5 separate regions of the Homo sapiens genome follow, and regions 1, 2, 3 and 5 are each linked to region 4. The links come from fine-mapping of genetic effects on gene expression. A gene starts in region 4. Each other region holds a variant in brackets. All regions are shown on one strand. Distances are between the middles of the regions. Region 1 overlaps MED8 (mediator complex subunit 8). Region 2 overlaps TIE1 (tyrosine kinase with immunoglobulin like and EGF like domains 1). Region 3 holds the start of ELOVL1 (ELOVL fatty acid elongase 1). Region 4 holds the start of HYI (hydroxypyruvate isomerase (putative)). Region 5 overlaps SZT2 (SZT2 subunit of KICSTOR complex).

The links. PIP is the estimated chance that this variant, and not a neighbour inherited with it, causes the effect.
Region 1: its variant is fine-mapped to the expression of HYI in whole blood (TOPMed, PIP above 0.99).
Region 2: its variant is fine-mapped to the expression of HYI in whole blood (TOPMed, PIP 0.90).
Region 3: its variant is fine-mapped to the expression of HYI in whole blood (INTERVAL, PIP above 0.99).
Region 5: its variant is fine-mapped to the expression of HYI in whole blood (TOPMed, PIP above 0.99).

The regions. Positions count from the first base shown.
Region 1 is chr1:43,378,609-43,384,578 of GRCh38, forward strand. It overlaps MED8 (mediator complex subunit 8), which reads right to left. Exons shown (of 7, transcript NM_201542.5): 7 at 5,309-5,970. It overlaps LOC112268225 (a long non-coding RNA gene), which reads left to right. Exons shown (of 2, transcript XR_007066049.1): 2 at 1-591. Among named protein-coding and RNA genes, the nearest start is that of MED8-AS1, 3.5 kb to the right of the region's middle. The variant A/G (reference allele first, on the strand shown) is at 2,754.
Region 2 is chr1:43,309,831-43,315,800 of GRCh38, forward strand. It overlaps TIE1 (tyrosine kinase with immunoglobulin like and EGF like domains 1), which reads left to right. Exons shown (of 23, transcript NM_005424.5): 10 at 1,841-1,999; 11 at 2,164-2,301; 12 at 2,475-2,771; 13 at 3,305-3,595; 14 at 3,948-4,138. Among named protein-coding and RNA genes, the nearest start is that of TIE1, 12 kb to the left of the region's middle. The variant C/T (reference allele first, on the strand shown) is at 2,354.
Region 3 is chr1:43,364,965-43,370,934 of GRCh38, forward strand. It overlaps ELOVL1 (ELOVL fatty acid elongase 1), which reads right to left and starts at 3,047. Exons shown (of 8, transcript NM_022821.4): 1 at 2,951-3,047; 2 at 600-659; 3 at 222-412; 4 at 1-44. The coding sequence starts at 645. It overlaps LOC112268225 (a long non-coding RNA gene), which reads left to right and starts at 3,248. Exons shown (of 2, transcript XR_007066049.1): 1 at 3,248-5,970. RefSeq lists silencers at 1,347-1,436, 2,697-3,376, 4,316-4,501 and enhancers at 1,754-2,488, 2,489-3,223, 3,817-3,896. The variant G/A (reference allele first, on the strand shown) is at 3,477.
Region 4 is chr1:43,451,423-43,456,422 of GRCh38, forward strand. HYI (hydroxypyruvate isomerase (putative)) reads right to left here and starts at 2,509. Exons shown (of 8, transcript NM_001190880.3): 1 at 2,173-2,509; 2 at 1,964-2,075; 3 at 783-897; 4 at 513-591; 5 at 376-425; 6 at 226-295; 7 at 1-122. The coding sequence starts at 2,371. It overlaps SZT2 (SZT2 subunit of KICSTOR complex), which reads left to right. Exons shown (of 72, transcript NM_001365999.1): 72 at 1-2,825. It overlaps HYI-AS1 (HYI antisense RNA 1), which reads left to right and starts at 2,505. Exons shown (of 2, transcript NR_174945.1): 1 at 2,505-2,631. RefSeq lists enhancers at 1-398, 399-1,285 and silencers at 2,076-2,135, 2,246-2,545.
Region 5 is chr1:43,402,669-43,408,638 of GRCh38, forward strand. SZT2 (SZT2 subunit of KICSTOR complex) reads left to right here. Exons shown (of 72, transcript NM_001365999.1): 2 at 509-634; 3 at 933-1,106; 4 at 1,712-1,882. Among named protein-coding and RNA genes, the nearest start is that of SZT2, 16 kb to the left of the region's middle. The variant G/A (reference allele first, on the strand shown) is at 3,233.

The DNA of each region.
Region 1 (5,970 bases), 72 kb before region 4:
AGGTTTGAAAGAGCTGTCACATTCAGGAAACTGCAAGCAATGTTGATGGCTTGGGAATTGAGTGGGTGGCATGACAATAAGAAGGAGGCAGGGGGCTGCATCACACAGAATCTTACTTGCCTTTCCAGAAAATCTGAGCTATTTTTTAAGTTTTTCCAATGAAGTAAATGTAATGGCCAAAAAGAGTAAATAAATATCCCTAGGGAATCTGGTGGCTTAGTCTGAAGCTGTTCAGACTAGTAGGAATTCTTTGAAGACTATTTTTTCTTAATAATGCATGCATGCTGGCTGGGTGTGGTGGCTCATGCCTATAATCCCAGCATGTTGGGAGGCTGAGGCAGGAGGATCACTTGAGCTCAGGAGTTTGAGACCAGCTTGGGCAATGTGGCAAAAGCAATCTCTACCAAAAATTAAAAAATTAGCCTGGTATGGTGGCGCACGCCTGTAGTCACAGCCACTTGGGGGCTGAGGTGGGAGGATCACTTGAGCTGGGAGATGGAGGTTGCAGTGAGCCAAGATCGCACCACTGCACTCTAACCTGTATGACGCAGTGAGACCGTGTCTCAAAATAAAATAATAATGCATGCTAAATGTGTGTTCTCTGTTTTAAATTACTCTTAAGTAAAATGAACATTCCAGGATGATTTTACCTTGTAATTTTCAGTATGCCTGGCACACCCACCCCTACCAACCCACCCACCAGGTATGTTGTCCATATGCCCCCATCTCTACCAAAAATACAAAAATTAGCCAGGTATGGTAGCGAGTGTCTGTAGTCCCAGCTACTTGGGAGGCTGAAGTGGGAGGATCGCTTGAGCCTGAGAGGCGGAGGTTGCAGTGAGCCAAGATCGCGCCACTGCACTCTAGTCTGGGTAACAGTGAGACAGACCATGTCTCAAAATAATAAAATAACAATACATGTTAAATGTGTATTCTGTTTTAAATTACCCTTAAAATGAACATTCCAGGAAGATTTTATCTTGTGATTTTCAGTATGTCTGGCACACCCACCCTACATGGGGAGTAAACTATCAAAAGGCTTTTAATCAACGGAATAATGTGATCAGATCTGCAGTTCAGAAAGACCTATCTGGCAGCCTTTTGGAAGACAAGTTAAAGTGGGCAGGACTGGAGATAAAGGATTTTAATCAGGGGAGTAATGTGATCAGATCTGCAATTTAGAAAGACCTATCTGTAGCCTTTTGGAAGATGAGTTAGAGTGGGCATGGCTAGAGATATGGAGTCTGAACAATACTTTTAGTAAGAGAGGCCTAGAGCCTAAACTGTAGGACAGGGTGGATGGACACTGGGGAGACAGAATTGGTAGGATTTAGTATCTGATTAGGTATGAGGGGGTTGGGGACCCAGAGGGAGAATAATTTAGAATGGTTTCCATATTCCTGGCTTAGAAGAGAAACAGGTGTGTAGGCTAGAATAACTGGATTTGGACATTCAACCAGCTGTGGATCATACAGGTAGAGATATCCATCAGGAATCTGCAGCTCAGCAAAGAGGTCTGAGCTGAAAATAAAACTCGCTTAAATTATGCACATAAAAGTGGTGGTCACAGAAAGCAGGTAGAAGAAGAAGAAAAGGGGGTTAAGGACAAGTCCTAGAGAATAACATTTAAGAAGCAGGAAGAAGTATAAAAGTCCAAAAGCTGCAGAGAAGGAATGGCCAGAGAGGAGGATGAACAAGGAGAGCATGTGCCATAGAAGCCATGGGGGAGAAAGAGACTAAAGGAAATGGTCAGCATTAAATGCTGCAGATACATTACTATGAGGATTGAAAAAACTCTGGATTTAGCCATTAGGTCAACAGTGATCTCTGAGTTTCTGAGGAGTGGTGGAAGTAGAAGCCCAAACACAGGGGTTGAAAAGTGAATGGGAGGTAAAAGAAACAGTGATTCTAAGCACTTTGTTTCAAGAGCATGGCGCGAGTGAGTCAGTGAGAGGGGATGTAGGGTTAAGAAGGATCTTTTAACATGGAAGAGACACTAAAATGGCACTATCTAAGGCCATGAAATGTAGCCCAGAGAAACTGGCAAAAAGAATGAAGGATAGACTGGGTGTGGTGGCTCACACCTGTAATCCCAGCACTTTGGGAGGCTGAGGTGGGAGGATCGCTTGAGCTCAGGAGTTTGAGACCAGCCAGGGCAACATAGAGACCCTGTCTCCATTAAAAATAATAATAATTTAAAAATTAGCTGGGCATGGTGGCACATGCCTGTGGTCCCAGCTACTTGGGAGGCTGAGAGGTGGGAGGATCACTTGAGCCTAGAGGACCACCTGAGTTGCAGGATCACAGTGAGAGGTGATTGTGCCACTGCACTCAAGCCTGGATGACAGAGTGAGACCCTGTCTCAAAAAAAAAAAAAAAAATGAACAAAGGATATCTACGTAGGGAATGTGGGCAAGAAAAGATGAAGAATCAAAATGACCACAAACTAGGGAAATTAGGGTGAGAATTAGGGAAAGCAGTGGAATGGCAGAGAAAACATAGGAAGACGAGCATCCCAAGGCACTTATATTTGATTCAGTAGGAAAGGTTATCTTCATGTGGAAGAAGTATAATTTATTGCCTATACTGGAGGAGTCTCTTTGGTACATGTATCTTGCCCAAGGAGAGAGAGATGTGTGAGGGGGAGGGCGACTTCTAACACACAAGGTATGTCAGAACTTGTAACTTGTGATAACTTTGTGGTAACTTACCATCTCTTTGATGAATCTTCACTTAGAGAAAGATGTTTTAGA[A/G]AACAGTTTCAAGGTTGTGGTCTACAAGGGTGTTGGTATGTTAAGGTGTAGGTGACAGCGAGGGAACTTCAGGAACAGTTTATAGGAGTCTGAGGGACTTGGGGGCTTATCTAGGAAAATTTTGGCCTATTTATGTAACAGTCATGCACCAAGGAAAACAAAACAAAACAAAATGCCTGGGGATAAATGGGTTTGAAAATCATTGCCACAGACTTTAGACCTAAAAAGGATCACTGGGATCACCAAGTGAGAAAACTGAGGCTTAGGGAAGTGAGATGCCTTGTCCACGATGTACTTAGGGAAGCTGCCATGTCCAAATGGCATGTGACTCATTGAGAGACCACAACAGGAACCCAAGAGCTGCCTCAGTGACACATGGAGCTCAAAAAAAAAGAGAAGTTAAAGGGAAGAAGAAAGGAACTTTGTCTTGTGGGACAAAACACATGCTGAAGTGATGGGGCACCATGGTCCCATCAGATGCGTTGGAGTTTGCCTTCTGTTCCAATCATAAAGCCCCATCTGCACAGTGGCAAGCCCTTTCCAAGGGTTAGTCCCCATGTGTTTGAGGTTTCCAGGCAAGAGCCACATCGAGCCTCCATAAGCAGGCACTGTGAACCCTCAAGACTGAACAGAAAAGGACCACATCCCCTGTTCCTACTCCTGGCCCAATGCTAAACTTCAGTAGGCTATTCCCCTAATTCTGGAGCAGATAGGAAAGGCAGATGGAAGAGAATGTACACTCCTTCGTAGTTCATCTGGACAGTAATCAGGAGCTGACCCAGGGTGGGCGTTTGGAAGGACTCAGCCTCCGTCCTGCCTGGTGCTGGGATCAGCTTACACAGCTCCTGTGTCCACAGGGCACAGAGAATACATTGTCCATAAGGAGGATTATTCTGTACAAGAAGCTCAGACAAAGGGAGAGGTTGTTTCCAGCTGCCTGGGGGAGGTGAGAGGGGGGTGGGAAAAGGGACCAGCCTTGCACTGGGGCATTCCTGCAGAGTTCAGCTTCTTCTCTGTGGCAGCACAACAGGAGGTGGGCAATTACACCCCCTCCAGCTCAATCCTAATGCTGGGACCCATTATGGAGTTCTAAGGAGCACTTGGCTACAACCTATCTATCTTGGCTGTTTCCCAAAAAACGACAGGGTTGAATGAGGTACACCAGCTAAGTAGGGCAGCAATAAACACCAGAAGGGGAACAGAATGGGGTGACTGGCACAATGAGCAAAAGAGAGGTTCAGCAATGACTGAATCCCAGGCTCAGGGCAGAGCTGGAGAGGGAGAGATCCTAGGCAATGGGCCTTATGCTGACATTGATTGGATAAGCTTCCGCCTTCAGCAGGATGAACTCTGTCCTGTAGTAAGCTCTTGACGTTTCACAGCTGCTGCTTCTTTCTCCATCCTAGACACAAACCTAGGAGACAATGGCCTAATCTCTTTCTCCAGGGGACCCAAGAATAGGAGAAAGCACGATCTCCAAGCAAAACAGGACAGTCAAAAACAGAGGAATGTTACCAGAGTAGGCCAATAGTCACCTTTTGCAAATCCTAAATCTGAGCCAGTAAATAGGTCATGTCCCCTTCTTCAAAGGAAAACTGTATATGTATTCCCTCCTGAGGGAATGAGTATGTTAGGGGTGGGAGATACATACTCTCTATTGAGGCATTTAATAGGCTGTATGGACCCCAAAGTGGGAGACACTACTGAGATTTGTGTACTCCAGATGATTTGAGGATGGGGGATAAAAACGACAGCATGTGCTCCTACGGTGATGAATGTAGAGGAGTCCCTCTAGAGGAAGGAGTGTTTGCTTAGGGGAACAAGATGTAGGTGACATCCTGCATATGTTCCTGTTGGGGCAAGAGGATATTTCCATTCTTGGATGACAAGGAATCCATTTTAATAGTATGGTGGGGATGAAGTCAGTATTTGCCTGGGACACAAAAAAACTTGGGGTTGGTGCCATTCAATAGGAGGGAATCTTTTGGTGGAGTAAAGGACAATAGTCACCAAAAGATGCTCCAGGAATTTCAGAGAAGCACAGCTCAAACTCTACCCAATATGCCAGTTAATACTGACATTTCCAGTGGGAAGGGAAGAGGTGAGAAGATAACACCTGAGTGGGCTGATGAGCCGGAACAGTTTAAGTGGGGGAAAGGTCTGGCATTGCCTTAGAGCTGGTGACCAGACTCCCCTACTGCTATGTATTGTGGTCAGTGAGCTTTGTGGATACCATTCCTCACCTTGATGGAATGGTAACAGATGTGACATCTGGGACCACTTTTCCAGTCCTTTGCTGCCACAGCCTGGCAGAACTTTGTTTGGCACTGAACAAATGCCAAAGTACCAGTGTGTGACAGAACAGAAAAAAGGCAGCTGGAAGGTATGAGCAGGAGGGAAGTTTCAGGATTTTTAGATCAAAGCTAATTAAAGATACGGAAACTTTTTTATGGAGAACAAATTAGAACTGCCTTGCAGCACTCTTGAAACTGCCCCTCTGATCCCTATGTAGTGCTCTCATAAATTACTGTCAGACAACCCTGAGCCAGTGAACATCAATTTAAATAACTTTATTCAGAGGAATCCTTTGGTCCACTTCTGCTGACTCAACCCCTGCCCATGCCAACAAAGGAGTACTAAGAAAGGCAGGTTAGCCTGAATGTCTAAATTCAATTTGTTCAACTTTATAAAAGCAGGCAAAGCTACTGGGGGTTGCCCCCTCCCACCATCATTCTGGTCCACCATTTGGGCCACAGGCTTAGGGAAATGAAGGAAAGTCGTTTTCTTTGAAGGAAATCCTGGCCAAAGTCGAGAAAGTGGGCACCATTATGAGGTCAACTAAACCCTGATGGCAGTGTGAAGTGCAATTCCCTTCTCCCTCCAAAATAAGAAACATGAATCCAGGGGAAGGGGCTTTTTCGTGTGCTAAGGAAAAACCCTTTCCCACATAGTCCTGCCTGGCAGAGCCACTTCCTGAGAAAGCCTCGTGTGTATAAGGTGGGGTAAAGGATAGGGGACTTTATGACTATTTGACAGGTAAAAGCCAAGTTGGCTCCTTAGAGGATGGAAAGGAGAGCAGGCCCAAGCTTCACCAGAGCTGCAGGTGGGCATTTTTTTTTCCTTCCTGGCCCAGAAGCTTCTTCACCTTGCGCCTTAGAGGGATAGCCAGAATGAAACCCAGGCAGGAGGGCCTGCAAAAACAGTGTGCCTCTAAGAA
Region 2 (5,970 bases), 140 kb before region 4:
AAGTATACCTTTAACTCTGCTCTGGGATGCTGCCTCCCATCTCTGAGTCACCCCACAGACACTCAGTGCTAGCCCAGGGGAGCATATGGGGCTATGGAGCTCAGAGGGTGACCAGCTTGGCTTCCTAGAAGTGGTGCATGCCTAGAAATCTTCCAGGTAAATAAGGAGGGACCTCCCAGTGCCCAAGATTACTCAGACCAGAGCACCCCCACCTGCTCTAAGGCCTCCTTCGCCTTCTCCAGCTTCTCCAGCACCCTAAGTCTTAACCATTCACACCCCTGCCACCCCCTGACCCTGCTGTCCCTCTGCTCCTGCCACCCCATGTAAGCCCCCTCTCTCACCTTCTGCTTTCTCGTTGCCACACTCTGCCTCCCAGGTCCTCGCCATCTCCCTATCCCGTGACTATGCATGACTCTCTGCCATCAAGCCTCACCTTCCGCCTTTCTCTTCTCACTGTGCCCAGGCTTAGGAGCCAGACAACCTGGGCTTGAATCCTCTCTCCACAAATTCCTTGCCCCATCACCTTAAGGAAACTACTTAACCTCTCTTACTTTGTTTCTCTCTTTGTGAAATGGGGATAGCTAGCACTTGATGGGGTTGTTACAAAGATTAAATTTGATGATGTATTTAAGCATTTAGCACAGTGCCCGATACAGGGTGTGTGCTCAATGTATGTCGATAATTATTGTTATTATTTAAAATGTCACCTAGTCCCTAGATTTTGATAGTTCTCTGGCAGCTCTCACATATGATCTGCAGCCAGGACCCCTCTTCTGACTCCAGATCATTTGGTGGGGACTCCATGAAGTGGGGCATCTACTCTGGAAGTCTGGTTTTGAAGTTGGTGTGGAAAGTAGCTGCTGTATGATTCGGAGGCCCATTTTATATCCAGCCACTTCCTGGACATCTAATCCCCTGCGTGAGCCAAAGGCACCAAGGGCTTCTCTGCACCCAAAATGGACCTTCATCTCCCCGCAAATCAGCACTGCCCTCCTGACATGCTCATTGCTGCCTGACACTCCCTCAGCTTACAGCGCGGCATCCTTTTCCTCCCTCGCTCCCTCCCTCTTTCCTTCCTTCCTTTCCTCTCAAAAAGCCAATCTGGTAAACATTTGTAAGAGTCAAGGGAACCTGTTAAAAGCACTAATGCAATAATCTGGAGAGAAAAAGTTGAGGCCAGAATAGGAGCAGCGATCATGGGGTGAGGAAGTGGGGCAGGAACAAGAAGGCTGTTTTGGAGTAGAATGGATAGATCTGAGGCGGCCTGCGCAGACAGACCTAGTTCAACACATGGCTGTATCTCCTTCTAGTTGTGTGTCCTTAGGCAAGTTATTCGGTGTCTCTGAGTCTCAGTGTTTTCATAATGCAGGGTAATGTGCCCTGACAGAAAGGTGGCTGTGAGAATTAGAGGTCATGCTATGAAGCGTGTGGCGGGGAGCAGGTGCTTCAGTGCCAGTGCCATTTTTTTTTTTTAATAAGAGAGTGGTGAATGAGGGCAGGGGCAGAGAGCAGGATGATGCCCAGGTAGTCTCCCTGACCTGGGTTTCGGCCCCTTCTGTCTACCCCCACACTGCATGGGAAGAGTGCACCCCCAAACCATGTCTGGCCATGTCACTTCCTCATCTACCATCTTTTGGGACACCCTCATGCCTTTATTGCTTAATCCTTGTGCCCCAAGCTACCCAGGGGCCTGAACTCTGTCCTCCCTGGGCCCTGGCCACTATGGTCATCTGTTGAACTTGGTGTCCCTCAAGCCCAGAGGGTCCCCAGCTTGAAACAAAGATGCAGAAGTGGACTGGATAGGCTGTGTGCCCATGCCTTACCCTGAGTCTCCTGGCAGTGCCCCCCGTGCCCCTGGCTGCACCTCGGCTCCTGACCAAGCAGAGCCGCCAGCTTGTGGTCTCCCCGCTGGTCTCGTTCTCTGGGGATGGACCCATCTCCACTGTCCGCCTGCACTACCGGCCCCAGGACAGTACCATGGACTGGTCGACCATTGTGGGTGAGTAGGGAGAGAGCTGGGGCAGGACAGAGGTGTTGGGTAATAGTGAAGGGATACAGTGAGCAGGAGAGGGAGGGCAAATGGTGCGAGGGGGCTGAAGGGAGCATGGCAGCTTCTAGAAGAGGTGGGGGCTGAATAATGTGTGCTTTACACCCCACGCCCAGTGGACCCCAGTGAGAACGTGACGTTAATGAACCTGAGGCCAAAGACAGGATACAGTGTTCGTGTGCAGCTGAGCCGGCCAGGGGAAGGAGGAGAGGGGGCCTGGGGGCCTCCCACCCTCATGACCACAGACTGTCCTGGTGAGAGGCCAAGAGTCATCCCTTCCTGTCCCCCCAAGGGTTACTTTCCCGT[C/T]GACCCCAGGGACCCCTGCCTTTCCCACTGGAGGTTGTTCTTCCTTGTTCACTGGGGATCATTGTCCTGTCCAGCCCCAAGTACCTACTGGACAGTTCTGACCCCTGACCTCTGGCCCCAGAGCCTTTGTTGCAGCCGTGGTTGGAGGGCTGGCATGTGGAAGGCACTGACCGGCTGCGAGTGAGCTGGTCCTTGCCCTTGGTGCCCGGGCCACTGGTGGGCGACGGTTTCCTGCTGCGCCTGTGGGACGGGACACGGGGGCAGGAGCGGCGGGAGAACGTCTCATCCCCCCAGGCCCGCACTGCCCTCCTGACGGGACTCACGCCTGGCACCCACTACCAGCTGGATGTGCAGCTCTACCACTGCACCCTCCTGGGCCCGGCCTCGCCCCCTGCACACGTGCTTCTGCCCCCCAGTGGTATGTGCAAGGCGCAAGGATAGCTGGGGGTTGGGGGAGGACGTGGGACACAGGGACACATGAGACCTAGGAGACACGGGAGGCTGTAGGAGATTAATGGACATGGAGAGGACACAGGACACACATAGGGTATTAGGCAGACGTGACCCCAGCGGGGACATGGGACTTGGGGAAGATCCAGGGTACCAGGAGGACACAGATCACCAGGAGCATGTGGGGAGAGCATGGGGAGGTCAGGGTTCATGGCGAGAACCAGGGTCATGGGAGGGCATGAGACTTGCGGAACACAGGGCATGGGCGGATGTGGAGAGGACTTGGGATACAAGAAGTACAAGGAGAAGCAGAAGCTTGAGGGTGAAAGTGGCCTGGGGGAATGGAGAGGAATTCAGTCTGGTGGGGAGGAGGAAGTTGGCAGGGTGGCCCCTGTGCTTGGACCCACAGAGGAGGGAGCACAGCTAGAGCAGATGTGTCCAGCCCCACAGCTACATAGCCCGGTCCTATCTGAGCCTTGCCTTCCCCCACCATCTCCCCAGGGCCTCCAGCCCCCCGACACCTCCACGCCCAGGCCCTCTCAGACTCCGAGATCCAGCTGACATGGAAGCACCCGGAGGCTCTGCCTGGGCCAATATCCAAGTACGTTGTGGAGGTGCAGGTGGCTGGGGGTGCAGGAGACCCACTGTGGATAGACGTGGACAGGCCTGAGGAGACAAGCACCATCATCCGTGGCCTCAACGCCAGCACGCGCTACCTCTTCCGCATGCGGGCCAGCATTCAGGGGCTCGGGGACTGGAGCAACACAGTAGAAGAGTCCACCCTGGGCAACGGTGAGAGGGCAGGGCCCACAGGACCCCCCGGGCTCTGAGCGGGGAGAGCTCAGCACGCTCTCCTTCCACATCACCCCCTACTGTGGAGCTAGGGCATCCCAGGCCCCTCCTGACAAAGAGTCAGCCCCAGTCCTGGGGACTCAGCCTTCCATTCTCATGATCCACTGTCCCAGGGCTGGGAAAATCATGTCGCCCCTCTGACACCCCTCATCCCTTCCTTCATGTGGCCCAAGTGATTTCCTGACAGTCCTGGCACTGGGATCTTTCACCTCTCCCTCTGTGTAACCCCATGGTGGCCTCTGGGTTCCCTGACCCAGGTGTCCCCACAATCTGCCCCTCTCACTGTGTCCAGGGCTGCAGGCTGAGGGCCCAGTCCAAGAGAGCCGGGCAGCTGAAGAGGGCCTGGATCAGCAGCTGATCCTGGCGGTGGTGGGCTCCGTGTCTGCCACCTGCCTCACCATCCTGGCTGCCCTTTTAACCCTGGTGTGCATCCGCAGAAGCTGCCTGCATCGGAGACGCACCTTCACCTACCAGTCAGGCTCGGTCAGTGACCCGCCCCGCCCCTGGGTGCATGCTTGCAGCCCGTGTTTATGTTTCTACCTGTGTACACACAATACCTTGTACACCTTGTGTGTGTGTGTGTGTGTGTGTTTATGTTGCAGGTATAAGATTACACTCAACAATGTTCAAGGGTACAAAATATAATTTTCTTTATTTCTCTAAAACTGAATTCAGCTCATGAGCCCATTTATATTAGTGGTGAAATATTTAATATTCCCATTTCAAAAGAATTCCGTGATGACCATATTTCACAATGGACATTCCAGTTTTGGGCTCCGTCAATTGGAGATTTTCCTCTCCCCTCTTTTATTTCTCCCTAGCGGTTATCTAGGCCTAGATAGCAAGGTGATCAAATGGAAGGGCACTTGGGGTTCATGCTGGCTTTTGTCCTTGCAGGCCTTCCTGGGCTCGGGAGCCAGCCTCTGTCTGCACACATCTTTGGCTGATGTTCTTAGCCCTGCTGTGGCCACCTGCCAGTAGGCCAGTCATGCTGTGAGCTCCTCATCCTAACCTTCATTCTTGCAAATCCCAGGGCCTCCTTTTGGAGACTTAAGAAAGGGGCTGGGCACAGTGACTTGCACCTGTAATCCTAGCATTTTGGGAGGCTGAGGCGGGTGGATCGCCTGAGGTCAGGAGTTTGAGACCAGCCTGGCCAACATGGTGAAACCTTGTCTCTACTAAAAATACAAAAATTAGCCAGGCGTGGTGGTGCATGCCTGTAATCCCAGCTACTCGGGAGGCTGAGGCAGGAGAATTGCTTAAACCCGGGAGGCGGAGGTTGCAGTGAGCCGAGATGTTGCCACTGCACTCCAGCCTGGGCAATAGAGCAAGACCCTGTCTCAAAAAATTAAAAAAGAAAAAGAAACAGAACTAAAGAACTGTAGGGGCTTCCTTATACCTTATGGAAGGAGGCATATTCTGTGGCCCTCAGACCGCTGCCACAACCCCTTCCCACTTAGACAACTGTTTCTACCACTCCAGAATTGTGCTGGCCTGCTCCTTGAAAGAGGAAGCACAAACCTCCACTCCTCCTGGCTTCCCTGTAATCCTGCCCGAGTTGTCTGTCCTCCTGTAGCCCACACCCTTCTGTCCCTCAGGCCCCTGCTTAGAGGTGGGGTGTGGGAGGGCACCCACTGTCACTTTATCCTGTCACATTCTAGCCGCCCATCCGCAGGTCCTGTCTCCTCTGAGGGCTTCTTCATTGTCGTCACTTAGGATCTGAACTCTGTCCTTGGCCTTCCAGGCCTGGACTCTTGATATTTAGAGCTAAGCTTTGGCATTTCAAATAAAAAATAAAAAAAGAAAGAAAACCCTCTTCTCTCTCAAGGGCTGATCCTTGTGATAGAAAGCCTAGTGTCTCTGCTATGCCTTTGAAAAATCCATTCAGAGGCCGGGCGTGGTGGCTCATGCCTGTAATCCCAGCACTTTGGGAGGCTGAGGCGGGTGGATCATGAGGTCAGGAGTTCAAGACCAGCCTGCCCAGTTGGTGAAACCCCATCTCTACTAAAGCTACAAAAATTAGCCAGGCACAGTGGCAGGAGCCTGTAATCCCAGCTACTAGGGAGGCTGAGGCAGGAGAACTGCTTGAACCCGGATGGCAGAGGTTGCAGTGAGCCAATATCACGCCACTGCACTCCAGCCTGGATGACAGAGTGAGTGAGACTCCATCTCAAAAAAAAAAATCCATTCAGAGATTCAATTGGCTTCTTTGTTCCAAGCTGTGTTGGCTCTTCCTCTGAGGTCAGTGCACACAGAAAGCCCTCACTGCTGTGGTGGGGGAGGGTAATGGGTACAGATGTCGAGGGCAGGAGGTG
Region 3 (5,970 bases), 86 kb before region 4:
TCACAGCGCCAGGTATAGGTGCTCAGCCAGCCCGACATCAGGAACTGGGAAGGGATGTGGATTAGACCACCAGAGTTCTCCCTTCCCAGCCATCCCTCCCCTTCGCTAGCTGAGGACATGGATCTGAACCTCTCTGGAAAGGAGAAATGCCATGCTCTGGCTCTATGGCCTGCTCCTTATCCTGCTGACAGAAATTAAAGCCCGGCATCCCAGGGGCCCACCTCATAGACAATGTAGAGGGAGAGTGCCACCAGTGAGAAGTTGTAGACAATCATGAAGCCACGGAGCTGGAAGGGCTTCCGATTAGCCATGATGCGAGGCCCAAGTGAGAGAACGAAGTACACGTAGGTCAGGAGAATGGAGGTCATTAGCAAGGGGGACCCCATCAGAGGGTAGCCCTGGATCCGGGGATCTATGAATAAGGGTCAAAGGAATCAGGAAGAGTCACAGGGTTCGAAGGGTCTTCATTTGAAGGGTCTACAGACATGAGGTCAGGTCACAGGATCAAGGGTTTCATAGGAACTCTCCATTAGAAGACAGCCGTAGATCCAGGGATCCCGGGAAAGAAGGAAGGAAAGGGCTGGTGGATAGCGTCTTACCTGCGTGCTTCATCACCTCTTGGTACAAGTTCACAACAGCCTCCATCCTGGCTAAGGACTCTGGGGAGGTACAGAGGGCGGATGTCAGACAGATCCCACTGCACACCCCCATCCCACAGAGATAAGACACAGAACCAGACAAGACACCTGCAATGCCTCATTGCAGAAAGGACAGAACAGTGAAAGGAAGGAATTACTGGGAACTAGGGGGAGGAGGCAGTTTGGTTGAGGCATCTGCTCCCCACACATCCTGCTTGCCTGGGAAGAGCTGTTCCACCCTTCCTCTCCACACCTTACTCTCCTCTCCTCTCCACAGTTTTACTTCCTGGCCTCCCTTCCCCTCTTCCTCCACAAGATAACTCTCAATTCCAGGTCTCTTACTGGAGAATCTTACCTTCTCACCAACAGGGAGCTCTTGAACTCCGTCTCCCTTCCTCACCCGAGTCCCTCACCTCCCCAGCTCTGGGTCTTTCTTCTCTCCAGGGATTCTCCCCTTCAATCTCTCCTCTCCTGCCCTCTCCTCTTCCCATCCCTCTGGACCCTTCCTGAACTCTCTTCTCCCCAGGGTCCCTCCTGTCCCTGCCAGGACTCTCACCTCTCTGGGCCCTTCTGTCCCTCCAGAACCTTATCCTCGGATTCCTCCTTGCCTGTGCTGGGACACTTATGTCCCTACGATTCTCCTCTGCCTTTCCTGGGACTCTCACCTCCAGCCTCTCCTCTCCAGCGCTCTCCTCTCTCCTCTCGCAGAGCCCTTCCTCTCCTGGAGCCTGGCTCTTTGAGACTCCTGCCCCGGCGGCTCCACCTGTCTGACTAGATCTGGCAGCAGCCCCGCCCTCTGCCCGCCCCTGCTGTACTGTGCAGGGGGTGGAGGGTGGGTCCGGGCCACAGGTCAGTGCCTGGGGGAGCAGGACCCACCAGGATTGGGAAAGCCAAGTAAAGCCCCAGACTCGCCACCCACCCACCCACGTGGGACCAGCCTGATGAGCTAAGGTCCTAGATTCTGAGCCAGAAACCTCCTCTGACCCCAGCCCCAGCCCCAGCCCTGGCCCAAAGCACTGCTGAAAATCCACACCCAGCATCCTCTCCTAAGCCGGCCATAACTGCTCAGTTTGTCCTACTTCAGAATGGGTACAATCACTCTTCCCTTCCTGGGAAGGGCAGGGAAGCCAGTGGCATGTGAAGGGGTTGGGGAGTGGGGGAGGTCGCAGGAATCTTCCCCTCCCTCAGGGAGGGGCCCCGTTGGGCTAGGCCCCCTCCCCCTCAGGGCCTGAAGGAATGTCGGGGGAAGGCTCCCAGGGACACAAAAGCCTCTGGCCAGACCCAGGAGAGCATGGTACTGACAGTCCCTGAGGGACAAGGCATTCTTGGAACAGAGCAGGGCCCAGGGCAGCAGGTGCCCCAGACTCCCTGCTTCCAGAGAAGCACCTCTGCAGATGCCAAGTGAAGAGGCGCACCTCTGACACCTCCCTGCCCCGCACACCCCTCACCTCCAGGAGGCCCGGCTTCTTTAGGCCCACCGTGGTCAGGCCCCAAGCCTGCGGTCCACACCCACCTCTCACCTAGCTCTCCACCCCCAACAGCGAAGGTGCCACGCCGAGGGCTGGCACACACGTCTCCTGCCTGACACACCACGCAACACCTCCGTGGGCTGACACGCATGGCTCCCGGCCCTCACGCAGCTCGGCCACCGCCCAGGCACACGCACGGGCTCACCCGCGGGGCCACTCACACACGTGTGCGCGCTGCCTGGCCACGCTCGGATCCCCTCCTTACTTGCTCCCCCACCATCGGGCTTGCTGGCCGCCCATCGCCGGCAGGGCCCAGGCCGGGGCGAGGGCGCCAACACAGGTTCCTCCCTGACACATGGGAGCCAGCCAGCCTGTTATCTCTCAACCACCAGCCCCCAATATCAACCCACACACCCGGCAGGCCAGGAGGGACCAAGGCTCCTGGGAGGACCTCTCCCCAAGCTGCAGGAAAATCTGGGTGTGTCTCTCGTCGGGGAACTCAGCCCGTCCCTTCCTTCCTTTAAGATGGATGGAAGGGAAAAGGTGCCTGGCAAAGTTAGGGTAGCGGGGGGAGGGAGGGGAGAGGAGGAGGGAGAGAGGTAAATGCAGGGGTGGTGGAGGAAGGCCCGGGTGTAGGCAAATGGGGGCCAGAGACGGGGGTGTGGGGGAGGGAGGGTGCTGGCGAGGCCCGGCCCCAGGGAGCTGGGACCTCCCACCCACTGGCCCCGGGAACACCCTCGCCCACAGCCTGGGCAGGGCAGGGCAGGGCTGGGCCGGGCTGGGCCGGGCTGGCCAGGCAGGGGGCGCCGGCACGTGGAGAGTCCGTGGAAGGTCCAGACTCACCCGTAGGGGCCAGGCGGGCAACGGCGGAGCGCTCGGAGGGAGCAGGGCCAGAGAGAAGTCCCCGGGGCCAGCCTGCCTGCCTGCCACTTCCTCATCTGCTGGGCCGACTTTCTGTCACCAGAGGGGGAGGGGCGGGCCGCGCGGGGGGCGCCCGCTGATTGGGCGGCCGGCAGGGCCGGAGGCCGGCAGCGCAGGCTCGGCCGGGGCGGGGGCAGGGGCGTGCCGCCGGGTCCCAGCAGGAAGCGCCGCGGCCCGGGCTTCCCACCCCTTCCCTCGCCGCCCGGGCCCGCCCTGGCCAGTTGCAGCGGCCTGGCCACCTCAGGAGCACGCTGTCTCTTCCCGACGTGCAGCCCGGGGCCCGGCCCTGTCCCCGGGTGACTGCTCCCCGGCAGGACTGCACATCTGTGGCGGCAGGCCCAGCTCAGGGCTCGGGGGAGGTTCGGCCTTGCCTTCAAAGAGCTCCCTCTCCTGCAGGGCGAGCGCAGAGCGGCGGGCGAGACCACACTGCGTGTGCTGAGGGCGCACT[G/A]GTCTTAGCGGGAGGGAAGCCTCACGAGCCTGTACACTTGGAGGAGCCCTAAGCGTTAGGATCTGCTGCGAGGGCTGCCTGGAACGGAGGTGAGAGGATACAAGTGGCCCGGGGCAAGCATAGTGAATCACTGGCTAATCTGGCCTTCGAGGTAGTGAAAGGAAAAAAGGGAAATGAAGCTGACTGTGGCTGAATGTAGTAGGTCTTGAAGGCCAAATGGGGCGATCTGATTTTTATTCTAGAAGCAGAGGAGAAACTAAAGATTTTTTTAGGAGACTATATTCAAGCTTGTATCATTAGTTCATCAGACGTTTATGGACCACCCACCGTCCGTGCACTCACGGGGCTTGCAGTCTATCTGGCTGAATCACTTTGGCAGCCAGTGTGAGGAGGGCACAGAAAGGAGACCAGGTGAGAAAGCCAGCCTGACCAAAGAAGATGTGGCAACTGATGGGATTGGAGGAGGCGGACAATGTCCTCCAGACAGCTGGACTGGCTCTCTATATATTTATTTATCTCTTCTACACCTCCAGCCCCCACCTCCACACTCACTAACTGGACTCAACTAGTGGGGGCAAAGGACAGACTAGATTTTAGTGAAATGGAATTTCTACCTCCAGCGGCCCCTGGAACAGTAGCACACAACGATCTAACAACTGCTTGTATGATTGGATGGTGTAAGTGCGGACAGAATTAGGGAATTTGGGCTACTCTGGGCACACTGCTTATGGGGCAGCCCTGCTCCGCAAGGAAAATAAACACATTTTTTTAAAAAAAGGCCGGGCGCGGTGGCTCACGCCTGTAATCCCAGCACTTTGGGAGGCCAAGGCAGGCGGATCACGAGGTCAGGAGATCGAGACCATCCTGGCTAACACGGTGAAACCCCATCTCTACTAAAAATACAAAAAATTAGCCGGGCGTGGTGGCGGGCGTCTGTAGTCCCAGCTACTCGGGAGACTGAGACAGAATGGTGTGAACCCGGGAGGCAGAGCTTGCAGTGAGCCGAGATCGCACCACTGCACTCCAGCCTGAGCAATAGAGCAAGACTCTGTCTCAAAAAAAAAAAAAAAAAAAAAAAAAAGGCCGGGTGCGTTGGCTCACGCCTGTAATCCCAGCACTTTGGGAGGCTGAGGCGGGCAGATCACCTGAGGTCAGGAGTTTGAGAACAGCCTGGCCAACATGGTGAAACCCCGTCTCTACTGAAAATACAAAAATTAGCCAGGCATGGTGGCGCAAGCCTGTAATCCCAGCTACTCGGGAGGCTGAGGCAGAAGAATTGCTTGAACCTGGGAGGCGGAGGTTGCAGTGAGCCGAGATCAAGCCACTGCACTCCAGCCTGGAGTGCAGGGCAAGACTCCGTCTCAAAAAAAAAAAAAAAAGGGAATTCGGAGACCAGCCTGGGCAACACAGTGAAACCCCATCTCTACTAAAATACATTTAAAAAAAAATTAGCTGGGCATGGTGGTGTGCGCCTGTTGTCCCAGCTACTTGGGAGGCTGAGGCAGGAGAATTGCTTGAACCTGGGAGGCAGAGGGTGCAGTAAGCCGAGATCATGCCACTGCACTACAGCCTGGGCAACAGAGCAAGACTCGTCTCCAGAAAAAAAAAAAAAAAAAAAAAAGATGTTCATAAATGGTAGGATAGGCTGGGGATGGAGGCTCACACCTGTAATCCTAGCACTTTGTAAGGCTGAGGCAGGCAGATCACTTGAGCTCACAAGTTCGAGCCTGGGCAACATCGTGAGACCCCGGCTCTACAAAAAATACAAAAAATCAGCTGGGCATGGTGATGCATGCCTATAGTCCCAGCTACTCTGGAGGCTGAGGTGGGAGGATGACTTGAGCCCAGGAAGTGGAGGTTGCAGTAAGCCAAGACTGCGCCACTGCACTCCAGTCTGAGTGATAGAAACCTTGTCTCTAAATAAATAAATAAATAAATAAATAACTCCACAAATGGTGGGATATAGCTATGTGAAAGTTTAGTCCTAGAGTTTAGGTAAGAGGTCTGAGCCAAAGTACAGATATGACCCAGCCTATTAGTACCCATCCTTGAAAGGAAATGGCAGAATTCACTGTTTAAAAGGCTCCAACACTAAGGTCCTAACTGATCTGGTCCCTGCCTTGTCCTCTCATTCTACCTGTGACACTCTCCTGGGCCCCACCCAGTGCTTTAACCATTCCCCGAGGATGTCAGCATCTTTCATACCCCCCTCAACCCTCAAACCTTGCCCCCTGGCTCAGCACAAGGAACAGTCAGGTCTCCTAGGCAGTAAATCACTCCCTCCTCTTGCTCCCACAATTGTAATTATATGCTTATCTGCATCGCAAAACTATAAGCTCCTCTCAGCATGGGCCATGTTTTGTCATCTCTGTATCTCCAGCATCTGGCCCGTTATCTGGTACTCAGTTGGCCCTCTACCTTTGTTGAATGAATGTTAGTGTGAATGGGATGACGTGGGAAAGGAAGAGAGGCCAAGGGAACCAGAGTCAAGTGG
Region 4 (5,000 bases):
CTCACAGCCCACGAAGCCTTTGTAGCCTTCATCTTCCAGCAGTTGAAACAGATAGGGGAAATTCAGCTCTCCGGGGCTGCTGGGCTCCCCTCGGCCTGGGACCTGTGCCACCTGCACATGCCCTGGGGACAGATGTGGACAAATGTGGGGTCCAGGCTCCTGCCAGGGCCTGAAGGACAGATGTGGGGATTGAAAGGGTGGGAGGGCAAAGGAAGGTCCTCTCACCAACAATGGGCAGGAACTCCCGGATGTTTCCTGTCAGGTTCCCATCCATGATCTGCCAGTGGAATATGTCCTAGGGAAGAGGATACTACATTCCGAGACCCCGCAGGCCCCGCCCTCCTTCCGATCTGCGAAGTACCCCCTTCCACTTACCATTTGTAATTGGAGGTTGGGTCTTCCTACCTTCTGTAAGATGGCTGCCGCTGTAAGAGAAGCCAGGGAGGGGACCGTGAGCCTCAAGAGCACAGGAATCAAAAGGGACAGAAGGAGAGACAGGGCTGGGGTCGTACCCTGCTGGGGCGTGTCCAGGAAGTACTGGGGGTCAGTGATGCGGGTGTTGATGGGCTCCAGCAGTCCCACGAGGTCCTCCTAGCAGCATGTCGGGTGCTGTGAATAGAGCTCCTTCCCAAGTTTGTCCCCCATCAGTCAGTCACTGGTCAAGGCCCTCACCTGTTCCTCTGACCTAGGCTGGCAGCCTCACGTGCTGTCCCCACTGTGCACCCCCTTCTCCGCACACCCACAGAGACATGTAAGTACGTGTGTGTTTCCACCTTTCTCACCTGAGCCAAAACCCCAGCTGCATGCCTCAGGTTCTCCAGAAAAACGGCCTCCATCTCAGCCTTGACTGCTATTCGATCAGCTCCCTGGGGTACTCGGCCAGCCATCAGGTGGATCCTGTGGGGAAGATGGACTGGAGGCCTTGCCTCCCTTGGCTCTCTCTGCACCTCTTCCAGGATTCCCTGACTGTGCCAGCCCTCGTCCGTCTCCCCAGGTCTCCAGTCCATGGCACCTGGGTCACGATGCCCAGGTATCCCAGCACTTTCAGAGACACTTCAGTGATGGCTGAGGGGCAAGCCCTTTCCCAGACATCTCAGTGTCCACCCACCGCCTCCTGCCTCCAGTACTTTCCAAAACCTTTCCTTCCCTCGGTCCTTCTCCGCAACCTGTAACCTGCTAAATTCTCACCTTTAAAAATTGTCCTGACCTTTGCTTGCCCTTCTCAGGTATTCCATGCTGCTGTCTCTACTTCCTCTCCTCGCATCTACTTAGCCTTTTCCCATCTGTTTTCTGCCCCCACCATTGACCAGTAGTGATCCCCTCTTGCCAGTTCCTTCTGAGCCTGTTTGGCCTCTGCAGGATTTGACATTTGAATCAGCCCCACTTTGAGCCGTCCACCTCCTCCCATCATCCCCTGATCTTAGCCACATCCAGCTCCAAGCAGACATTCCAGGCCTCCCCATCCCAACAGGCTACATACATGTCCAGCCTCAGGAACGCTGCCAAATACACCAGGCCTCCTCTTGCCACAGCACCCTTGCAAGGAACACTCAACTTCCTGCCCATCAAGCAATGCCCACTCCTTGAAGACAGTCCAAGCATCACTACCTGTAAGCAGCTTTCTCTGATCCAGACAGGGTTAGGTGCCTACCCTGCTCCCACAGCTTCCTGGAATAGGCCTGTCCTCAAATGCATCACTGTATATATTTACTCTCCTATCTGCCTAGGCAGACTGAGCTCCCAGCATGGGATCCCAGCATGGGGTGAGCATGAAAGAGTGGCAAACAGAGTGGCATAAGACAGATAAAATACAAAAGGCAATTTACAAAGGACCAGGACCGCAGAGGCAGAGATAAACCAGTGGGCTCAGACTTCTGAGCGTCTCAGATCTGGCGTCCTCGACTCCCTGAACCTGCATCAGGGTCATGGGTCACAGGGGTGGGGGTGGGGTGGAGCGGGGTACCTGGGACAGCCCAGGGCTTTGGCATACCGCACGGCCTGCTCCAGTCCCTCTCGGAAGGCCGCCTGTCTCCCGGGGACGGCCCCCAGCCCCATTTCCCCCTTCTCTTGGTCTCCTGCAGAGAGAACGGGCCTCAGCCCCCGGCTCGGACACTCCCCTGCCCGCGCCCCGGCACCCCCCAGCCCTCCCAGCCCTCCCGGCCCGCGACGCACCCGGGGGCGTGTTGATCAGTACAAGCCGCAGCCCCGCTTCTCGCGCGGCGCGCGCCAGCGCCTCAGGCGTCTCCGCGTACGGCCAGGCCACCTCGACGGCCTCGAAGCCCGAGCTGCCCGCGGCCCGCACCCGCGCGGGGAGGCCGGAGAGCTCGGGGAATAGCCAGGACAGATTGGCGGAGAAGCGCAGCGGCGCCATGCCTGGGGAGGCCGGGCCGGGCGGAGTCCGCGGGATCCAAAGGCGGCGGGCGGCGGGCGGCGGGCGGCGGGCGGGGGCGGGGCTCTCCTTGCTGGCCCTGCGAACGAACGAGCACTGTTCGTGGTTAGAAAAGCGAAGTGCTGTAAAAACCCGGGCCTTCACGAAAAGCGCCTACGGTTAGCGAGAGAGGGATCACGGGGAGAGGCGAAGGGGCGGAGCGAGGGCGGCCGGAAAAGGAGCAGGACCCGCGCCTGGAGAAGGTAGGGAGGCCGAGCTCCAGGGCCTGAGAGCCGGACGCGAAGCAAGAGAGAGCTGGCTGCCCGAGGGCCCGGTTGCAATGATGGGACGCGCACTTTAATACTGAGTCTTTCCTCTGATTATAAAAATGCTATCTGTTCGTTAAGCAACATTTGAAAGCTGTATGACCAAATAAAGAAGCACTTTTATACCGCCAGTTATCACACCACTAGCCTGTTGGCTTTCCCGTCCAAATTTTAAAATATGCAATTTTTTTCTTTGGAAATTCTGATCATTCGGTATATGCTGTTTTATAGCTCTTTTTCATGGAATATTATTTTGTGAGCATTTCCTCGTGTTTTCCAATAGCCTTCAAAGTCAGTGCCTTCGCTGCTCATTGTCGCACACCTAAGCAGCAAGTCATTATTGTACTTTGTGGTTGGATATCGTGTGTGTGCACGCGCGCTGCAAGCGCACTTTCAGGCACTTCTTAGTCCCTATCTCTGACTCTTTTCCGAGTCTTTTTCTAGAGATGTCCATCACAGTGTTTGCCCGTTCACGCCGCTAGTCTTTTGCAAGGGAAACCGCCCCATTGGAGCAGCTATGGGTGAGCTGTCCCTTTTTAGCCTTAGCCTCAGCTGATTGGACCAGGGAGGTCATCTGATCCCAGGGCAGCCAATCCATAGACTGGCCAAAAACCTCTTACTTGCGTCGTTTGGAAAGGTAATTTAACCAATCAAGAGTTCAAACAAGGAAATGCTGAGAGTCAACAGGTGGTGTTGCCAGAAGGTGACTGGGCTGTAGAAACGAAATAAGACAGTCCTATGGTAAAGAAAAGCTAGAGCGGAAAGGAGGGGAACCAAGTCCTGTGAATAGAGGTAGCACCCTGAGAAACCCATGTCATCCCAAGGGTGCCCAAACCCATAGCTGCCCCCAGGTCTGTGCACTTAAGGCTGGGATGCTTAGACTTTCCTGGGTTTCTGTCTCTGTATAGCCTCTTAATGTTTCTTGAGATAATTTGAATGATTTTACTTTCATCTACAATAACCCAACTGATTGGGCAGGTTCTTATGGGTAGAATTACATGGTCAAAAATAGGAACATATTTAAGTTGTTGATATCTTAAATTTCCTTTGAAAAATATAAATTTATATCCCAACAATTCATGAGTAAACGTCATCTTGATCTATCGTCTGTGCTAACTTTGACAGAGAAGCTTAAAGTGCAACATTAGGAACACCCAGCTCCCACTGATTGTTCTGTCAACACTCAACTCCATCTCAAATGAGGCCAGCTCAGACACCAGGGATCCAGCCTGATCCCGTGGTGAACCCAAATTCTTGGCAGGTTCTGTTTCTTCAGCTCTGCCTCCAAGAACAGACTGCTGCCAGCTGACACTGATCACCTGATTTCATGCTCTTTTGCAGCTGGTTTTACACTAGGACCTTTGCCTTGTCTTGGAACGTGTTTCTCGTCCAATCAAGACCTCACTAAGCTTAACATTGTAATCAGTCCCAACTTTAGTGTGTTTGCAATCCAAAATTGACAACAAAGAGTAACATCTAGAGGAAGTAATTCCTTTATTACCACCTCACTGTTGATCTCCGAGTATGCAAATTCTATTTATGATGTTGACAGCTGCTGAGCTCTGCGTCAGAAACAAAATGTGTCCAACTCCCGATTGTCCACCCCTTTTTTCCTTGGACATGCCTTAGGGCAGTAAAGATTATACATAAACTAGACATAGGTGACTCACTTTCCCCTTAATTCCCTTACAACACCTTCCACCTTCACATAATATGCTCAAATAAATATATAAGGAGTGCAATGTCCATGAAAATTATTTGCTTTATTCACCTTTGACTATGTCTTATCCCACCTTGCAACACAGGCATGACACTAAGTTATCACAAGTTTTGATTCTTTGCATTTGCCTTTTTTTTTTGCTTTATTGTGCACACTTCACAGGTACGTATTTGACTTTTAACCAAATAATTTGCACAGGTGTGATTTTAAAGTAACAACAACTTGTAAATAGTTGCATGGATAATGGCAAAAACTTTAGTACAGAGTTCAGAGTCTCATTTGATCATTGGATAACATTTGGCAATGCAGTAAAACATATTACAACTCATGTGAAATGCAAATCAAAACCTCAATGAAATTCTATTTTATGCCTTCCACATTGGCAAAAATAAAAAACACATTATCAAATATTGGATAGGATTTGGAACAACTGCCAACAGGAGTGTAAATCACTATAACCTCCTTGGAAAACAATTTGGCATTGTCTCTTAAAGCTAATATGCCTATGATCTGACAGTTCCTTTCCCAGGTGTATCCCCTGAAGAAAGTTTTGCACAAGTGTACCAGGAAAGAAGTAAAGTGATGT
Region 5 (5,970 bases), 48 kb before region 4:
GGGTGGGGACTGTGACCCACAGAGGTTTGATTTTGAGGTATTTGGAAGGCTTGCTATTCCTTCGGTGAAAATTTCTTCGGTGCCTGCTGTTGTCAAGACTTGTTAGGAGTAACTGTCTGGCATTCGTGTAATGTATTAGGGACTTGTCCTGGTATTTGCTCTGTTTGTAGCAATTTGCCAAGCACAGGGGCACAAAAGTAGAATCAGACACAGCCCCTGCCCTCAAAAGCTTATAGTTTATAGGTGAAACTCACATAAACTTTGTGGAAACAATATGGAAAGGTCACTTCATCTATATGGAGGTCTGTATCGGGCAAACAGGAACAGAGAGTTGAGAATTGACTCCCTGGGAACACCTTGCATGGAGGTTGGGGTAAACTTTTCACTTCTGCTGTTTTCCCTCTCATTGATGGTGAGTTCCTTGGGCAAATTATTTGGACAGTGATCTGTGTGTTCCAGGTACTCGGTGCCATTTTTTAAAGATGTATTAATGTCTCTTTGTTCCCAGGTGGAAGAAGCTGGGCAGGTGTTCCTGTTAATGAAAAAGGATTATCGAATCTCCCGAAATGTTCGCCTGGCTTGGTTCCTCAGTCATCTGCACCAAACTGTGCAGGCCACACCCCAGGAGATGCTGGTGAGGCTTAGACACACGAAAGGTGTGAGGGGCCAGCCCAGAAGGATCTGTTTTTTAGGAGAGTGCTAGAAACAGACAGGGTGGGAGACTAACTCTTAAGTCTGGTTAGGGCAAGGGACTGCCTACAAGATGATGGAAATTTTAAAAAATAATTTTTCCAGAGAGTGAGAGGAAGAGTATACGGTTAGATTGAGGGAGGTAGAGCCAATGATGTGTCATTTGGGATATAGAAGGCAGGTCCTGGGAAGAAAGGGATACTTCGCTGATCCTTTCCTTTTCTTTCCATCCTAATTTTCAGCTTCAGTCTGAACAGGAATTGGAAGTCCTCAGTGTCCTGCCCCCTGGGTGGCAGCCAGATGAACCAGTGGTCCCAAGGCCATTCCTCCTGGTACCTTCCACCCGGGTCACCTTCCTGGCTTGGCAGTATCGGTTTGTCATTGAGTTGGACCTTAGCCCATCTACTGGCATTGTGGTAAAGGATTGAAGGGAGACTGTGGGAAGAAAGGATGGGGTGGGGTGTGAGGAGAGGGAGAGGCCTGTGGGGAAGTGAAAAATGGTCCCAGCCTACCATTTTGGAGAGAAGACAGGCTTATAAAGGAATGATGGGTGTTTAAAAAGAGCACTGGGCCAGCTGTGGTGACTCATGCCTACAATCCCAGTGCTTTGGGAAGCCAAGGCGGGCTGATTACTCGAGCTCAGGAGTTCGAGACTAGCCTGGGCCACATGGCAAAACTCCCTCTCTATAAAAAATACAAAAATTAGCCAGGCATGCTGGCATGCACCTGTCCTAGCTACTCGGGAGGCTGAGGTGGGAGGATTGCTTGAGCCCAGGAGGTCGAGGCTACAGTGAGCCGGGATCAGGCCACTGCGCTCTAGCGTGGGCAACAAAGCAAGACCCTGGTTTTGTTGTTTTTGTTTCCAAAAAACACCCCAGAAACTGTTCCATGTGTGGCACTGTATTTGGGTGTGCGATCATCCATAAGTTAAGTGTCCTACTGACCCATGGAAGCTGCATGTTTCTGCCCTCTGGTTAGGGCTGCCTTTGGACCCCCTTGAGTGCTCTTTCTCTGCCCTCAGGATGATTCCACAGGGGAGATCTTGTTTGATGAAGTTTTCCATGCCCTGTCCCGCTGCTTAGGCGGGCTGCTTCGGCCCTTCCGAGTGCCTGGATCTTGCATCGACTTCCAGCCTGAGATCTATGTAACTATCCAGGCCTACTCCTCCATCATTGGACTGCAGTCCCACCAGGTATTGCATCATCTCTCCAAGTTTGTACCCTCAGACCAAATTTCTATTAGTCCTCTGACCAAGTCCTTATCCTGTCTCTGCTGTTTGTCCCCAAAGTCCCGAGCTCTGCTGGCTTCTTGAACCTGTTTTCTAGTCATCCTCATGAGTCTCTCTCTCCTTGAGAAGAACCAGTTCCTCTGGACTTAAAGGGCTTTCCTATAGACTTCGGGTCAGTTGGTGTTGATTGGACACCTGCCTTTTTCACTGCTCCTGTAAATCTCTTTGATTCTGACCACTGGATGTCTGTTTTCTCCATTCCCCTCTTCTCCTTTAGTTCTGTTGGATGGTTTGCTGATGCGCTGGCTCTGGCTAGTACCCTCAGGAGATGGTCTTTTGGAATAGTTTTGTGATTTTGAAAGACAGCACATAACCCAGAAATGTAATTGGTTTCAAGGATAGAGGAGGGTCATTTTTTGTTGTTGTCTTTTTTTGAGACGGAGTTTCGCTCTTTTTGCCCAGGCTGGAGTGCAATGGCACAATCTTGGCTCACTGCAACCTCCGCCTCCTGGGTTCAAGCGATTCTCCTGCCTCAGCCTCCCAAGTAACGGGGATGATAGGCACTCACCACCAGGCCCAGCTTATTTATTTATTTATTTATTTTTAGTAGAGACGGGGTTTTGCCATGTTGGCCAGGCTGGTCTTGAACTCCCGACCTCAGGTGATCTGCCAGCCTCGGCCTCCCAAAGTGCTAGGATTACAGGCGTGAGCCACCGTGCCCAGTGTGGGTCATTTTTTTTTTGAGGGCCATGTGAACTGTTGGTTATAATGCTGACCACACAGATAATTACAGGGCTTATCCAGCACTCAAGGAGGCTATCACAAGACACTCCTTTTGGAGAATGGCCAAGTCTGTTACTGGAATATCTGTTTATGACTTAGATAAGCATTGGCCCAGTTTCCCCTCATCTGCTTTTAACTACCCTTAACTCATTGGTAAAGGCTTTCCCTGAAACTGTCCGTGATGGCTGCATTGTCACCTTAGCTATCAAACTGGATTTGAGAGATAAGATATTGGGAACATGATCTAAGGGTCTGAAACATACAGCAACAAAATTGGTGCATACCTGGATCCCAGGGCAGGGATTGCCAGCCCTCTGCCCTAGTTTAAAGTGCTTTCCTAGTATAGCCGTTAGGACTATCAGTTGTGGGCTGCATCCCCAGATGGGGGCCAGGTTTTGCAGGCACTGATAGCCAAGGCAGGGAGAGCATGGATGTTAGGTAATCACTCAAAACTTGGTTCAGGTTGGCAAACACTTAATGAAGCCTGAGCTATACCAGGCCTGAGCAGGTCCTGAAGACACAGATGAATCA[G/A]ACCTTGTCTTTCTCCTGATGTGAAGAGTTGAGATTTTAGTGGGGGAGATAAATATTAAAGGGAGGTAATTGTAGTTGAATGTGATAAGGGCACCGATAAGATGACTCAGGTGCTATGGGAGCACCAAGAGGGAGCACCCAACCAAGCATGGGGCCACAATAGAGAAGTCTTTCAGACAAAGCAGCATTTGTTTTTCATGTTTTTGAGACAGAGTCTTGCTCTGTTGCCCGGGCTAGAGTGCAGTGGTGCAACCTTGGCTCACTGCACCCTCCACCTCCTGGGTTCAAGCAATTCTCCTGCCTCAGCCTTTCAAGTAGCTGGGATTACAGGTGCCCACTACCACACCCGGCTAATTTTTGTTTTTTTTGTTTTTTTTGGTAGAGACAGGGTTTCACCATGTTGGCCAGGCTGCCCTCGAACTTCTGACCTCAAGTGATCCACCTGCCTCAGCCTCCCAAAGTGCTGGGATTACAGGCATGAGCTACTGTGCCTGGCCCAAAGCAGCATTTGAACTGAGTTTTGAAGAAAGAATTGAGGTTAACCATTCAAAGAAGGGGAAATGGACTTTTCTGACAGAGGGACCAGCAAAAGCAAATACATGGTACTATGAACCTGTACTCTCAATCACAGGTGTTTTAGGGAACTACATATTATTCAGTGTCAACAGAGTAAAATTTGAATGTGGAAAGGGATGGTAAAGAGGAGACTGTAGACATAAGTGGGAGCTGGTTATGAAAGGCCATGAATGTGACACTAAGGACTTTGTGCTTTATTCTATGGGGGAGTTCAGTGTGGAGGATAAGAGCACTGGATCTGGAATCACATTGCCTGTGTTTGCTTCCTGGCAGTACCACTTACTGGTTGTGTGTCCTTGAGCAAGTTACTTAACCTTTCTGTGCATCTGTGACCTTTTTCCAAAGGGGATATTAACATTGCTTATATCATATGGTGATTGAATTAATACATGTCAAGCACTTAGAACTGTGCTTGCCACATACAGAATGTGCAAATGTTAGCTATTAAAATAATTAGCCATAGGTAGCGGAGAACTACTGAAAATTTTAAACAGACAGTAACAGGATCACATGTCTACATTGGGAAGATCACAGTATTTTGTGGCTAATATGGAGGATGGATTTGGGGACAAAGTCTGGATGGGAGAATAGGCGAAGATTATTGTAGCATGGGAGAGAGGAGGAAGCCTGAATAAGGACAGCAGCTATAGGGAAGGAGAGGATTTCATCAGTTAAGCCCCAGGGCCACTTGGCCGCCCTGAGCCAGCCTTTTCATTTTCTCTGTGGCTCCCTCAAGATGTATCCTGGCTGGGCGCAGTGGCTCATGCCTGTAATCCTAGCACTTTGGGAAGCCAAGGCAGGTGAATCACATGAGGCCAAGCGTTTGAGACCAGCCTGGCCAATGTGGCAAAACCCTGTCTACTAAAAATACAACAACAACAACAAAAAAATTAGCTGGGCGTGATGGTGCATATCTGTAATCCCCGCTGCTTGGGAGGCCGAGTCATGAAAATTGCTTGAACCTGGGAGGCAGAGGTTGCCATGAGCCAAGATCACGCCACTGTACTCCAACCTGAGAAACAGAGTGAGACTCTGTCTCCAAAAAAAAAAACAAGATATATCCTGTTAAATCACAGCACAGCAGTGCGTGCCTGTAATCCCAGCTACTTGGGAGGCTGAGGTGAAAGAATTATTTGAGGCCAGGAGTTTGAGACTAGCCTGGGCCACAGAGTGAGAACCTGTCTCAAAAGAAAAAAGTTAATTCACATATATAATACATGTCCACAGAGATTTGAAAAATACATTAAAATATAAAGAAAAAACAAAACTCATCTATAATACAATACCCAGAAACAACAGGAGTTGTGCAAACAACAGTAGTTGTTTCTGGGTATCGTATTAAATTCTAACCTTTTTTTTTTTTTTTTTTTTTTTGAGACAGAATCTTGCTCTGTTACCCAGGCTGGAGTGCAGTGGCATGATCTGGGTTCACTGCAACCTCCACCTCCTGGGTTCAGGTGATTCTCCTGCCTCAGCCTCCCGAGTAGCTGGGACTACAGGCGCCCGCCACCACGCCCGGCTAATTTTTTGTATTTTTAGTAGAGACGGGGTTTCACAGTGTTGGCCAGGATGGTCTTGATCTCCTGACCTTGTGATCTGCCCGCCTCGGCCTCCCAAAGTGCTGGGATTACAGGCGTGAGCCACCACTCCTGGCTTAAATTCTAACATTTTATGGAACTTTCTTCTAATTTTGTGAGTGTGTCTTTATCCTCCCTCACCTCCATCTCTTTACCCAAAGAGAAAGGGAGAATCAAGAGGCTCATTCTAGACACGTGATTTTATGTCCTGTTTTTTGTTTTGTTTAAGAGACAGGGTCTCACTCTGTTGCCCAGGCTGGAGTGCAGAGGCATGATCATAGCTCAATGTAACCTTCAACTTCTGGGCTTAAGTGATCTCCCACCTCAGCCTGCCAAGTAGCTAGGACTACAGGTGCATGCCACCATACCTGACTAATTGTTTTAAATTTTTTTGTAGAGACAGGATCTTGTTATGTTGTCCAGGCTGGTCTCAAACTCTTGACTTCAAGTGATCCTCCCACCTCAGCCTCCCAAAGTACTGGGATTACAGGCATGAGCTGCTGTGCTTAGCCTGTCCTGCCTTTTTTTTATTTTTTTAACATATAGTATGGGCATTCTTGTGTGTCACTAAATATTCTTTGAAAA